Linked DNA regions of Homo sapiens. The protein of the gene in region 2 interacts with the protein of the main gene of each other region in a biochemical or structural test. Each region holds a gene or a part of one and is shown on either strand. Other genes may lie near its edges.

The links.
Region 1: the proteins of OR8G1 (region 2) and FRMPD1 interact in a test that uses a peptide from one of them, tested with the Homo sapiens proteins (one large-scale study listed by IntAct).
Region 3: the proteins of OR8G1 (region 2) and SIPA1L2 interact in a test that uses a peptide from one of them, tested with the Homo sapiens proteins (one large-scale study listed by IntAct).
Region 4: the proteins of OR8G1 (region 2) and HTRA3 interact in a test that uses a peptide from one of them, tested with the Homo sapiens proteins (one large-scale study listed by IntAct).

What each region holds. Positions count from the first base shown.
Region 1 is NC_000009.12:37,741,454-37,744,953, forward strand, and holds part of FRMPD1 (FERM and PDZ domain-containing protein 1), read left to right. Parts: intron 1-2,935; coding exon 2,936-3,500. UniProt on the Homo sapiens protein: Stabilizes membrane-bound GPSM1, and thereby promotes its interaction with GNAI1.
Region 2 is NC_000011.10:124,251,095-124,254,864, forward strand, and holds the end of OR8G1 (olfactory receptor 8G1), read left to right. Parts: 3' UTR 1-3,270; downstream 3,271-3,770. UniProt on the Homo sapiens protein: Odorant receptor.
Region 3 is NC_000001.11:232,620,134-232,623,633, reverse strand, and holds part of SIPA1L2 (signal-induced proliferation-associated 1-like protein 2), read left to right. Parts: intron 1-3,500.
Region 4 is NC_000004.12:8,283,254-8,286,753, forward strand, and holds part of HTRA3 (serine protease HTRA3 isoform 1 precursor), read left to right. Parts: intron 1-3,307; coding exon 3,308-3,500. UniProt on the Homo sapiens protein: Serine protease that cleaves beta-casein/CSN2 as well as several extracellular matrix (ECM) proteoglycans such as decorin/DCN, biglycan/BGN and fibronectin/FN1.

The DNA.
Region 1 (3,500 bases), on a different chromosome or scaffold from region 2:
CACACACACACACACACACACACACACACACACACACACTGCATTCTGAAGGAAACATATTGGAAAAGAGCACATGGATGTTGAAGGTGACCTGCCAGGAGCTGGGAGAGCTGCAGCCCTTGTTCCTGTCTCGGCACTTTCCTGCTGCTCTCTGATCCTCTATTCCCAGACCTCCTGTGCTCTCCCACTGTTCTGGAGAGAAAGGCCAGCTCCTCTGGGAGCCCCATCAGGCCCTTTGAGGCCCTCTGTGACATGGCCTCTGCCTGTCTCTCTCCCTCCTCCTGCATTCCTGCCATACAGACCTCCTTGCCACTTTCTACAAGTGCCTGTTTTTTCCCCCTCCTCCAGCCTTTGCACATGCTGCTCTTTCTGACCGAAACACTCCTCCCCAGATCGTGGCTGATGGTGCCCATCCGTCTATCAGATTCCGGTTGGAATTCACTTCCTCAGAGAACATTTCCCAGGCTTCCCAGGCCAGGGCAAGTCTCCCCATCTCTGTCACATGTTCTTGCATTACCTGGGGCTCTCCCTGTCTGGCACCTCGCACAGCCTGTAAATTACATATTTACTTGTATGATTCTGTGTTGATGTTTCTCTCCATCACTAGACCGAGAACTCCTTTGAGCGTTAGAACTGTGTGTTTCTCACTGTGTCCCCAGCACACAGCGTCTAGCAATTGTTGTTAAATGAATGAATGAAGTCTCCACCATCTACACTGAGTTCAATTGACTGTACCTCTAAGGAAAGGAGAAACCATGGCCAGACTCCTTACTGCTCCCCAAAGTACCCAGACAACCACTTTCCATGCCCCAGCCTTGCCCTGCAGGGCCAGCCATTGTGCCGGGGGGCAGGATGGAAGTGTGGCAGAAACCATCAGTCAGGGCCCTTTTATGGGAGTCTAGTCAGGAACATATGGGGTTCATACCAGACACTGTTTTGTTTTTGTTTTTGTTTTTTATAGGGAGCCAGTGTAGTGCTGAGAAAAGAGCCAGAACTAGGATTCCTCAGCCTGGGTTCTGATTTGGCCCCTGACTGACTATTGGAGCCTCTTTGTCTTTGGGACTTAGAAACTCCTTGGTCGGTGGCTGTCAGTAGCCTAGGGCAGTCAAATGTGACTGGGCATCAGAATCACCTGAGGGACCTTGTTTAAAAACTATAGATTTGGCCGGGCGCAGTGGTTCACACTTGTAATCCCAGCACTTTGGGAGGCAGAAGCAGGCAGATCACCTGAGGTTGGGAGTTTGAGACTAGCCTGGCCAACATGGCAAAACCCCATCTTTACTAAAAGTACAAAAATTAGCCAGGCATGGTGGCGTGCACCTGTAATCCCAGCTACCCAGGAGGCTGAGGTAGGAGAATCACTGGAACCTGGGAGGCAGAGGCTGCAGTGAGCCGAGATTGCACCACTGAACTCTAGCCTGGCCAACAGAGCAAGATTCTGTCTCAAAAAACAAAAAACAAAAAAACCTAAACCTTATAGATCCCTAGGCCCTAGCCTCAGAGATTCTGACTCCTCAGAGATTGTGGGGAGCAGCCTAGGACTTGATAAGGTTTCTAATAGCATACAGCCAGGTTAGAAATGACTGGTCTGACTACCCAAGCTCTCTGATTCTCAAGTGCTAGGCTCTGATCCTAATTCCTTCTGGCTGATTCCCAAGGGTTCTTTACAATAGTGCCTCTCCTCCCAGAAAGATCCATCCTGGGATGCACAAAACTCGATGCCTGTGACAGAGTTGTGGCCCCTTTACATTCAGACATGAAATGGCAATAACGAGCAGCTTCCTTTTAGTGAATACCTAATGAGGCAGAGGCCTTGTGCTGGGTGCTTTATAAAAATGCACTAATTCCTTTAACCTGCACGGCAGCACTGAATGGCACCATTGGCACTAAAAGACTTGGGTTAACATCAGCACAAAGAAAAAGTGTTAGGAAGTAAGATTGTTTATAGAATTGCTGGCAAGCCTGAAGACCTGGGTTCAGAAATAGACAGCAACCAGGCTAAGAGTCTAGTCACAGGATTCCCTACCTGTATTATCAAGCTATTGTGGTTGGAAAGAATGGCTCTGCTTTTTTTTTTTTTTTTTTTTTTTTTTTTTTTTTTTTTTTAATGTCTTTGGGTTTGGAATTCTGGAGAATTTGTAGCTGATTGGCTGGCGTGGACAGAGCATCTTCGTGAACAGTTCCAGCAGACTCTAACCATTGGGGAGATGTCATTCCCTAAACAGAAGTTGAGATGCTGTGACCAAAAGATAATTAAATGGATCTTAGGCATCCAAAAATTTAATAATGTCTATCACAGCTGGGTGCAGTGGCTCAATCCTATAATCCAAGCACCTTGGGAGGCTGAGGTGGGAGGATTGCTTGAACTCAGGAGTTCAAGGCTGCTGTGAGCCGTCACACCACTGCACTATAGCCTGGGGGACAGAGTGAGACCCTGTCTCAAAAAAAAAGAAAAAAAAAAGTCGGCCAGGCGCGGTGGCTCATGCCTGTAATCCCAGGCCTAGGTAGGCGGATCATTTGAGGTCAGGAGTTCGAGACCACCCTGACCAATATGGTGAAACCCCATCTCTACTAAAAATACAAAAATTAGCTGGGCATGGTGGCAGATGCCTGTAATCTCAGCTACTCCGGGGGGATGAGGCAGGAGAATTGCTTGAACCTGGGAGGCAGAGGTTGCAGTGAGCCGAGATCACGCCACTGCACTCCAGCCTGGGTGACAGAAAGAGACTCCGTCTCAAAAAAATAAAAAAAAATCTGTCACAATTATTATCCCCATCTTTCAGATGAGGAAGTTGAGGAGATCAGGATTGAACTTGCTCAAGGTTACACAGCCTAGCCAGAATTTAAACCCAGGAAAGCCCAAGGCCTGAGCCCAAGCTCTATTAACCTCTTTTTTTTGTGCTTTTTAATGTATTTTTTCTTTCCTGACTCCCAGGGCCCAGAGATGTTTCTACTGCAGAACCCAGTGCCACAAGCTTGCAGAATAAGGCCAGCACTTCTAGCCCTGAGAACAGCCTGCCTTGTGGGCCAGATGGAAGACAGCCAAGCAGGAGGGGAGGGGTGAAGAAATATGCCAAGACCCTGAGGAAAAGAAGGTCTTTCCTACAGACCGACTACACCTCTCAGGTCTCATTTCCCCTGGTGCCATCAGCCTCCCTGGAGAGTGTAGACGACGTGTGCTACTATGACAGGGAGCCCTACCTGGCCCTTGGTGCACCCTCCCCAACTGTGTCCTCTCTGCAGGACATGCAGGGTGAGCCTGGCCTTCTGGAGACCAAGGCCTTGGGGCTGCTGGCTCCTCTGAGGGAGACCAAGAGCACAAACCCAGCCTCCAGGGTCATGGAGATGGAGCCCGAGACCATGGAAACCAAATCAGTCATCGACTCTCGAGTGTCTTCTATTTCTGCCATTCGCTTCCGGATTGACCCCAACAATAAAGAGAATTCTGGTGTTGTCCCTGCTGCCAGCTCCTCAGCAAGCACTCCTCACTGTTCTAACCC
Region 2 (3,770 bases):
TAATCAAAATTTCAGAATATAAGTTACATATCCGTGTATGTGTTATAATTGTGCAATCCAATATATCATCTGCTTTGCATTTTCCTATTCTAGTTTGTACTTGCCTTCAACCTACACTGGACTTCAGTCTTCATGAAGATTCCCCCGTACATGTGGTTTATTGCCACGTCTCCAGCGTCTATCATAGTTCTTGCCACCTTAGGTCCTTGAAAGCTTTTTTATTATTTCCTCATTTAAGCTAAGTATAGGAAAGCCATATGTATGTCATACTTACTTTATCTATTTATCTCTCGAAGAGCTACATATGTTTTTAAATCTAATCTAATTTAATTTATATTTCAAGTTGATTAAAATTTACTTTAGAAGGTTCTTCAAGAATCTATAATATAACTGGTAACATTCTGACCTATTCTATGCTAAGATGTATGTGTATTTGTTCTGTGAAAAATCCCAATGCAGATATGATAACTTGTTAACACCTGATTTTTTAAGTCATTAAACCCTCTCAACAACCAAGGAGTCCCTAAAGCAATACTTATTTTTTCTTTCTTTTCAAACATGTGGCACAGGAAGGTTAAAAAATATGTTTGATGCCTGATGGGTAAACATAGCAAATCTGGTGATAGAGTTGGAACCTGAATAGCATGGTCTAAACTACCCTTAATTCTCTATGCCTAGAGCAGAACATAATTTTACCTGTGCTGGTAATGAGAAAATTCCTTGCTATGTAGATATTTAGTGAATTTTATGATATATAAAATATACTTCAATAAAATTGCTTTAAAATGAAAGTGAGGGTGCTACGTGATCAAATACAATAAGCTATGTTTCTATAACCAGAAGAAATATTTCACTTGTCTATATTTGGATGGGGCTGGTTAAGTTGCTTTGATCAGATTCCAGGTAATGCAGCTTACTCTGTTTATATATATTTAATCACAGGCTCCTGGATATCGAAACTATAGTTTGTCCATCCTTTTAGTTGAAGGGAGTGTAGGTGAATGAGCCATAGGTTAATAGGACTATTTCCCGGGAACTCTAAAAACATGGCATGTATAAAATTGAGCATACCAAGTAGATTTGGATCTTCTTGCCTGAGAAAATTCTCAATCAATCATGGACTCTATTAACCTGAGTCTGGGAAGATTCAACTGTTAATCTATTTCTTCCATGTGGAGCCAAGTTAAATGATTTCTTTAAGCTTATTTACTTATTACTTATTTGCTATTACTAGTGTATCTAAGTATAACTAGTGAAAAAATTGCCAGGATCCGACTTAGAAAAAAATATATTTCTAAAAGCTAAGGGGACTTAAAGTTATTTCCTCAGAAAACTCATCTCTGAAACTCAATCTGCATTACTTTTCCATATCATCCTTATGTTCTCTTTCAGAAAAACTATCTCTTTTTCTTCTTAGCTTGCATTGCTTGTGGTAATTTTATGATCATTTGAACGTCTACTCTGTACATTTCCCTTGCTTCAATGGACTATAAGCTCGAGTAGAGAATACACACTCAAATATTTATTAATGATTATACCAAACACCCTTGGTTTCTCATGCCACATTCTTTCAGACTACCTCCTGTTTCTCATTTCAGCAGACTTGAGGCACATTTATTAGCTGTGTGCAAGCTGAGAGTTAACTTGCATTGAAGGTGTTACACTTCAAATTTCCAGCAAGTGCTTTGCACTTTCACTCTGGAAACTTCTCCACAATTTCAGATGCTCATTTGGCTTATGTACAGTCAGCTCAAAGAATTCTTGCTCTTGGGGTCACCTTTACCCAGTAACAGTGAAAATTGTGTGTAATGCCACATCATCCTGTCACACAGGACAGCCATCTTGGGAAACATCATATGCACTTCTGAGGAAGTGCTGGTAAAATTGAACCACCATTGCTCATACCAGCTTTTCAATAACATACTCCAATATTAGCTTTTCCTTCTTCGCATTTTGACTCAAATTTGTAAACATTACTAAAAAATTAACAGCTTAAATGAAGATAAAACAATAATTTAAAGTCCGTTAGAAAACTATTTATGTTTGCTGAGTGCAGTGGCTCATGCCTGTAGTCCCAGCACTTTGGGGAGCTGAGGTGGGTGAATCACTTCTGTTCAGGAGTTTGAGACCAGCCTGGGCAACAAGGAGAAACCTCATTTCTGCAGAAAATACAAAAATTAGCTGGGCATGGTGGTGTGTGCCTGAAGTTCCAGCTACTTGGGAGGCTGAGGCAGGAGTATTGCTTGGGTCCAGGAAGTTGGGGCTGCAGTGAGCCTTGATTGTGCCACTGTACGTCAGCCTGGGCGACAGAGAGAGATTGTCCCCCAAACTACCACCACCACCAATGAACAAACAAACAAAAACTTTGACAACTTTTAATGGTCAAAAAATATTGTATATATTATTGTGTACAAGTTATTTTGAATGTGTGTGTGTGTGTATAGCGAAATGCCTAAATTGAGCTAGTTAACATATATATTACCTAACATATTTATTTGTGTGTGTGTGGTGAGAACACTAATCCAATAGATTTTTATTACTATAGTTACCATTTATACAATAGTTTTTAACTTATTCCTTCTATCTAATTAAAATATTATATCCTTTGACCAACATCTCCTCCCACACGCCCAGCTGCAGATAAACACAATTCTACTGTCTACCTCTGTGAGTTCAGCATTTTTAGATTCCACATGTATGTGAGATCATGTAGTATTTGTCTTTCTGTGCCTGGCTTATTTCATGTAATATAATGTCCTACAGGTTCATCTGTATTGTTGCAAATTTTTAAATCTAAATATTATTCCATTGTGCACATATACCACATTTTGTTTATCCATTCTTCCTAAGCGATGGACACCTAGGTTAATCTATATCTTGGCTATTGTGAATAATGCTACAATAAACATGGGAGTGCAGATATTTCTTTGACGTGCTGATTGTATTTTTTGAATATATACCCGATAGTGGTATTGCTAGGTCATATGGTAGTTCAATTTTTAATTTTTTGAGGAAGCTTTATGCTGTTTTCCATAATGACTGTACTAATTTACATTCCCATAAACAGCATGTAATGGTTCACTTTCCTCCACATCCTCTCCAACAGTTATCCGTTCTCTTTTTGATAGTAACTATCCTAACAAGTATGAGGTGATATCTCACTGTAGTTTCTCTGCAATTTGATGATTTGTAATTTTGAACACTTTTTCATATACCTGTTGACCATTTTTATGTCTTCTTTTGAGAAATGTCTATTTAGATGCTTTGCCTATTTTTAAATCTGTTTGTTTTCTTACCATTGAGATGTTTGCATTTCTTATATATGTAGGATATCAATCGCTTGTGAGATGTATGGTTTGCAAATATTTTCTTTCAAAGCAAATTTGATTAAGAAAATCTATTGTAAATTATTATCTCAAAATGATATAATACTAATAAATATTTTGAGTAAAAAGTTTAATAATCTTTATTTCCAAACAAGTTAATTAGTCTATATATGGAACTAAAATAACCTGTACAGTGCATGTGTTTCTTTTGTTCCTCAACATTTTTATTTTTAGAAGAAAACCTTATCATTTCTCCTTTGTGCAGTTCCCTAGGAACACCTCTTGTGTTTACACCAACATCTACCAGAAGCTTTCATTTAGCCCTCAAACTAAAATTATCCAAGCATTGGTGTTTTATGAGTACATTACGATATTTAATACAGTTAGTAGAGGTCAATGAAAATAAAAACTTCCATGTCTTACAGTGCATTCATTTTCTAGAAT
Region 3 (3,500 bases), on a different chromosome or scaffold from region 2:
TTTTGTTTTGTTTTGTTTTGTTTTTTGAGACAGAGTCTCGCACTGTCACCCAGGCTGGAGTGCAGTGGTGCGATCTTGGCTCACTGCAAGCTCTGCCTCCTGGGTTGCTGCCATTCTCCTGCCTCAGCCTCCCAAGAAGCTGGGACTACAGGTGCCTGCCACCATGCCTAGCTAATTTTTTTTTGTATTTTTAGTAGAGACGGAGTTTCACCATGTTAGCCAGGATGGTCTCGATCTCCTGACCTCGTGATCTGCCCGCCTCGGCCTCCCAGAGTGCTGGGATTACAGGCGTGAGCCACTGTGCCTGTTCTGAACTCAGCTGTTTAAGAAGCATCATACTATCACACTCAGACGAAAGCATTCCCAGGATCAGGGTATGTTAAAAGTTCAGATTGACAGCCTAGCTCTGTCTGTATGTGATTGGCCAGAACTGTAGCACACAGCCACCCGTAGTGCAAGGAATGCCTGGCTTCCCAGCCGTTAGTGGGTTGGGAATGAGTGAGGAGAGACAGCAGGGAGCCCTGCTCTTGTATCTCCAGTAACTTCCAGCTAAACGAGCACCATCCACCCCCACCCATCCTCCTGTTCGATTTTAATAATGGAACATAAGCAGCAAACAGGCAGGGACATTTCTGGTTTACTGCTGTATTCCCTGCACTTAGGTGGTTTTTGCCACATAATAGGCTCACAGTAAACAAATATTTGTTAAAGAAATGATTGGGAGTTGTGGGTTGAACGTAAAAGAACTTCCTTTATCTTGGCTTTTGTTGAACTAAATACTGTTGAGCAAGTTCTAATCATTATTTCTATTGTACATGATCTATCTTGAACAACAGTTTATACCTCATTTATGCCTTTCCTGGGTCGTTTGAAATGACCTGTGATTGAACTCTGATATGGAACTGGTAAAAATGTGGAAGTTTCTGAAGAGGGACTGTGTTCCATCTGTTACATCAAGAACTTTATAGCCCCATTCAGAGGGGTGTGGTTCCTGGGAGCCTGGGCACCCTTAGGTGGCCGCCTTTCATGAGAGAGTATGATTCACACCTTTCCCAGGTTTCAAAGTCTCATCTGTGCTGATGCCTGCATAGCCCTATTTGAATCCCATGAGGCTGCAGTTGACTTAAAAGCCCTGGCTGGGGCTTAATCAAGCTTACTGAACAGAAAGGATTTCTGAATTGTGTAGTACTGTCTGTAGTCCTTTAGCTCTCAGTCCATTAGCAGGGTTCATTTCTACAGGAAATCATGATGTTTAAAAACCCCATCAGTATTGTATAGTGCATCTTTTGTTGACTCAGTACATGAGGATATTATTTATGCCTTAAATGTGGTAGGTGCTCAGTAGCCATAGTCTTAATTTTATATGGTAAAAGTCTTTTATCTTTAATATCTTAACGTAGTGCTAGTTCTTATAATATGACATTAGAGGGATGTCATTCTAACTCCTATTTGTTTACATTTGTGTATAAGGTATGCTGTGATAAGTGCTGTAAGCAAGGCATACATGATAGTAGAAGCATCCAATTTATCAACCAATTTTATTTGAGGATCGTTGTAACTCATTTGTTTGGAATAATAGGTCATTTTTCCCATTTAAAATGTTTTAATTTGGGCATAGTGGCTCATGCCTGTAATCCCAGTGCTTTGGGAGGCTGAGGCAAGGATTGCTTGAGCCCAGGAGTTTGAGACTAGCCTGGACTGCAAAGCAAGGCCCCATCTCTACAGAAAATTTTAAAATGAGCCGAGTGTGGTGGTGCACACCTGTCGACCTAGCCACTGGGGAGGCTGAGGAGGGCCGATCCCTTGAGCCCAGGCGTTCGAGGTTACGGTGGGCTGATCGTGCCAGTGGACCCCAACCTGTGTGACAGAGTGAGACCCTGTCACAAAAAAAAAAAAATGTTTTAAATGACAAGAATAAGTGAAGGAGACTAATGTTGATTTATGAAGAGAATAAAGAATTGGGGAGAGATATTCTTAAAGGCGAGTGTAAAATGTTACCGTGCTTGAACTTTCATTTGTGTTCTCTCATGTATACTTAACGAGAACCTTATAAGGCTGGTGGGATTTTTTTCCCTTTTACAGATACAAAAACTAAGGTTTAATGAAAGTGTGGTTTTCTGAATCTGAGTCCTTATGTTTTAAACCCATTTCTCTTGGTTCCAGCTATAGTGTTCTTTATTCTACAGCTCACTTGTAAGGTATGGTAGGTTTCAATAAATCATGATGAAAGGAAAGAATGAAAAGACAGAAAGGAAGAAGGGAGAGAGGGAGGGAACTAAAGAAGGTGTGTGCATATAAGAATGGCGGAATTACCGACTCACTATCACTGAAAGGGGGAAGTGGAGGCTGAGGGTTGGGCTAATGAGCTCATTGTTCTGGTCTAAAAACTGCCCTGTTCTCTCAGCCAGTGAATTGTCTGTTATTAACTAGAAATTTTGTAATTTGTGGTGAGGTAGCAGTTTTACTGATTGAATCAGGTTATATATTCTTTGTTGGGAAGTGAGTGGGTCCTTCTGTGATCATGCAGAGAACATTTTTTTTAGCCCGAGTCTTTGCCAAGATTAAAAGAAATATAAGAGGAAAACAATTTTTGTTTTGCATTTATATTTTGCTAGATTTGCATAATCTTTGTTTAAGCCAGTTGAATGTGAATCCCTAAATACATTTCAGGCATTTAAATATTTAAAAGGATTCATCCACAGTACTTTACTCACCCAAAGAATAAGTGCTTACAACAAAGAAAATAACACCCTTGCAGATGTAGCCTATGTAGACTTTGTTCACCTTGTCATTGAATTATACAACATTAATAGAGAAGCTAGAATTTGAACATTCACTGAAATGCTTAGCTGGCTCTGTTCCAAAATATTGTTTCCCTGGTAGAGAAAGCAGGACAATTTGTTTAAAACTGGCAGTTTGCCAGTCAGAATAGCTCTGACGCAATCATTGCAGTAACTACTTTGCTCTGACTGCTAATTTTAGGGCAGTTAAATCTGGGTGATGTCTGATGGCTGCTGTCGCTGTGCGTCTGGTTATGTGAAGCTTTCTAAATTCATCCTCTTAGCTTGGCACCGTAACTTAGTTCTTTCTGAGATAAGCTGTGGAGCAGAGGGGATGTTGAGTCGGCACAGGATATGTGCATGGAATGAGGAACAAGGCCCTAGGAGAGTTTCAAGAGACACTGCTTTCATCTTACTACGCTCTTTGTTATTCCAATAGCAAAGGCTTAGCACATCTGTACTTCCCTTGCTGTAGCACCCTGGGAGGTGTTGAGGAAGGTGGAGAGAAGTGTACATCGAGACACCTACCTTCATGGAACAGGGTTCTGGCAATATGCACTTGCTTTCCTTGTCATCCCTGCAAGCATTAGTGTGTTTAAAAGTGAACTTTTATCTTCTTCCTTTTTGGAACAGGTAAAACTACGGAGAAAAATGGTAATTTAAAAAAATCTGGCCGGGCGTGGTGGCTCATGCCCATAATCCCAGCACTTTGGGAGGCTG
Region 4 (3,500 bases), on a different chromosome or scaffold from region 2:
ATGTCCCAGCCCCGTAGAGGAAGTGGTGTGTACCGTGTGGCTTCACCCCCGAGCAAGGCCTCTCCTTGCAGATGCACAGGCAAAGCCTCCTCCCCTTCTTCCCACAGGGCCTGCCCCGGTCCCTGCCACCATCCCCAGCCTCTCCTACTTCCCCCATCACAGAGACCCTCTGAGCTGGTTTGGGGGAGCCCTGCCTTCAGAACCTCCCGCTGTGCAAGCTGCCCAATGTCTGATCGCTCACACCGAATCCTGAGGGCTCATCCCAGATTGACTTATATCCCGCAGAAGCAGACTGAATGACTCTTCTGAAGTTTAGAGTGTTTCTCCCATCCACCTTTGCTGGCCCTTTGGTCCCTGGGTGTGCACAGAGCCGGCAAACAGCCTGATGAGGAGGCCCCGGAACCAAGCCTCATTCCACCCTGATAGGGATCAGACGGCGGGTCCAGGCGGACACGGAGCCGGCAATGAGCAGTCACCAGAGGCCGCAGGCCAGGGCTCCAGGGACTTGCTTGTTTTCACGGTACTTTCCCTGAGGCCTCCAGCCTCCCTGTGACGAGGCTCCACTGCCCTAGGCCCGGCCCTGGGGACTGAGCATCTGGTGGCTCATGGGGAGATCCCAGGAGTGATTCCTGCTCCAGCACCGCCTCCCTGCTGGCTGGCTCGGCGCTTGTCTGGTCCAAGCCCCTGTCACTAGGCGTCACGGCCCCTCTGCCCTCCCCATCCCGGGCTCTCCAGCAGAGGTCGTGCTCCTTGAACAGGGGTGTGAGAGCGCGTGACGGGCATATAGCACCTCAGCATCACATCCTCCACACCTGCTGGGAGCTCCCTGGGCTGTGGGCTGTGTAGCCCATGTTTCTCAAAACAGCCCTGGAGGCACCACCCATGCAGGACCCACAGCCCTGGTTGCCACCCTGTCCGGTGCCCCGTGCTGATGGACCTCTCACTGCCCCCTTGGCAGCACACTGACCCCTCACTGCCCTTCCCTCGAGCCCCGGGCCCTGAGACATGTCATTGAGGAAATTATAACTGGATGCACTAAGTGGCACGTTGCTGGCCTTCCAGGAGGTAGGGATGGGGGCAGCATCTTTCTGGAAGGCCCCAGCCACCAGGCTCTGAACCAACTAATTACTGACTCCAGCCCGGCTGGGAGGCCGTTTCTGCCCTCAGAGCCTCCAGTGACTGATGCTCTGAGTGGGTGGGTGAGACCCAGCAAAGATGAGACAGATGCTTTTCCAGCACAGGCCTCCCGGCTGTGACCCCTGACCTGAGGTCTGAGTGTGGGCATGGAGGCCAGTGGGCAGCCGCGGGCATTTTCTGCAGACCCCGCAGGTGCCTGGCCCTGTGAGGCACCCTGGGGCTTCCGCAGGCAAAACAGGTGCAGTTCCTACTCTGGGGCACACACGGAGTGGGTGTGGCAGAAGCTGGCTGCGGATGTGAGTGGACAGATGCTGGGGTCACCGTGTGGGGTGGCCAAGTGGCCAGATGCCCAGGCTGCCTGGGGCAGACCCCTGCTTTGCCCTTTGCCTGCCCGCCTGACCTAGGCAAGTAGTTCAGCGTCTCGGGACTCAGTTTTCCCACCATAAAGACCTGAGAGTTAGGGACGACAGTAGTTTCTTGTGGCTGCCATAACAAAGTACCACAGACTGCATGGCTTAAAATGACAGAGATGTTTGCTCCCATGGTTCTGGAGGCTGGAAGTCCTAATCAAGGTGTCAAGGTCCTAATCAAGCAGGGCTGCTTTCTTCTGGGGGATGTTGGGGGAGTGTCCCAGGCCCCTCTACTGGCTCTAGTGTTTTCCGCAGTCCTTGGTACGCCTCGGCCCTTAGACCCCTCTCTCTGCTCTGTCTCCATCATCTCATGGCCTTCCCCTCTGTGAGACTGGACTTCCCTCCCTTAAAGACAACACAGACACACTCTGATGTCACCGTAACTTCAGGACACCTGCAAAGACCCTGTTTCCAAATAAAGTCACATTCACAGTCACATGGGGTTAGGACTTGGCCGTATCTCTTGGCAGGGATACAGCTCACCACAGCACCCCCCTTGCAGGGTGCCCATGAGCATTCAATGGCCTGCCTGCCTCAGAGGGAGCACAGGGTGGCATTCGCTGCCATCTCTGGTCCTGTGGGTCACAGCGAAGCTCCTGTACTTTGCAGAGACTGTCACCTCCCTGCACGTGCCAGACGCTCCCATCCCTCCATGCTTTGTCTCTTGCTCTCACCTGCCTGCACGTGCCAGACGTTTCCATCCCTCCATACTTTGTCCCTCGCACATTTTCCTTGCTCATCTCTACTAAGCAGCCTCAGGGAGTGAGTACCTGCTCTGGGCTGGGCCCCACGCTGGGGTCCCGAAGGTTCCCACCCTGGAGAAGGTCCCAGGCTGTGTCTGGCATTCAGCCTCCTCCCCTGCTGGATGTGGGGCTGTGGTTTCTACTCAGAGAGCTCTGGTGAGAACTGGGGATTGTTGCCCATCGGCAGACACCAATGCAAACCCAGGCCAGCTCCACACCGTTCACAGAGGGCAGGGCCCAGGCTGGCCTCATCTGTGCCTCTGCACCCCTGCCCTCGGGGTGTCCAGGGCTCGGGTCCTGCATCTGCCTGCTGCCAGCACTGCCACATTTGGGGCTTTAGGCAGCTAGCCTGGGGGTGAGGGTAGAGGGAGGTGGGAATAAGCCTTCTCAGCCCTCCCAGCACTCACCCTGTCGGGATGATCAGGAATCTGCCCCAGCCTCTGGGGAGCCTCCCTTCCTGGGTACCTGCTGCAGCCCTGCAGGATGCTGTGTGTGCAATGGGGCTTTTCCCCTAGGGCCAATTATTGTCCTGTTTGTTGAGAGGCGTTTTAGAGCCCAGGCATCACCACTCGGCGGAGGAGGTGTTGTTGTCCCATTTCCCAAATGGGGAGACCAAGGCTCAGAGAGCTTCACTGACCTGCCCACGGTCAGGCAGATAATAAGTGGGTCCTGGACTTGGGATTAGCATCCTGGTCTGTCTGGCTCCGTGCTCCGTAGTCAGGATGGCGAGTGCAAGCTGGGAGTCATCTGACATGTCGCAGGCAGCCTGTCTCATCTCAGCAAATTGCAGCGAGAGGTGATCATCATCACCTCTTTATGGCTGTGAATGGGTGCAGGCGCCGGTGACTTGGCCAGGTCACAGGGCCAGGATTCAAATGGGAGCTTGAGGGACTCCAGACCTGTGTTCTGTCAGCCACACACTGGCTCTGCTCCTCGCTGACCAGCCCCACCACTGCGCCTGACTCCCCCGCGTCCTAGCCCCACCCTAAATGCCCGCCTGTGTCTCCCTGGCTGCAGACACCCGCTGTTTGGCCGCAACGTGCCCCTGTCCAGCGGTTCTGGCTTCATCATGTCAGAGGCCGGCCTGATCATCACCAATGCCCACGTGGTGTCCAGCAACAGTGCTGCCCCGGGCAGGCAGCAGCTCAAGGTGCAGCTACAGAATGGGGACTCCTATGAGGCCACCATCAAAGACATCGACAAGAAGTCG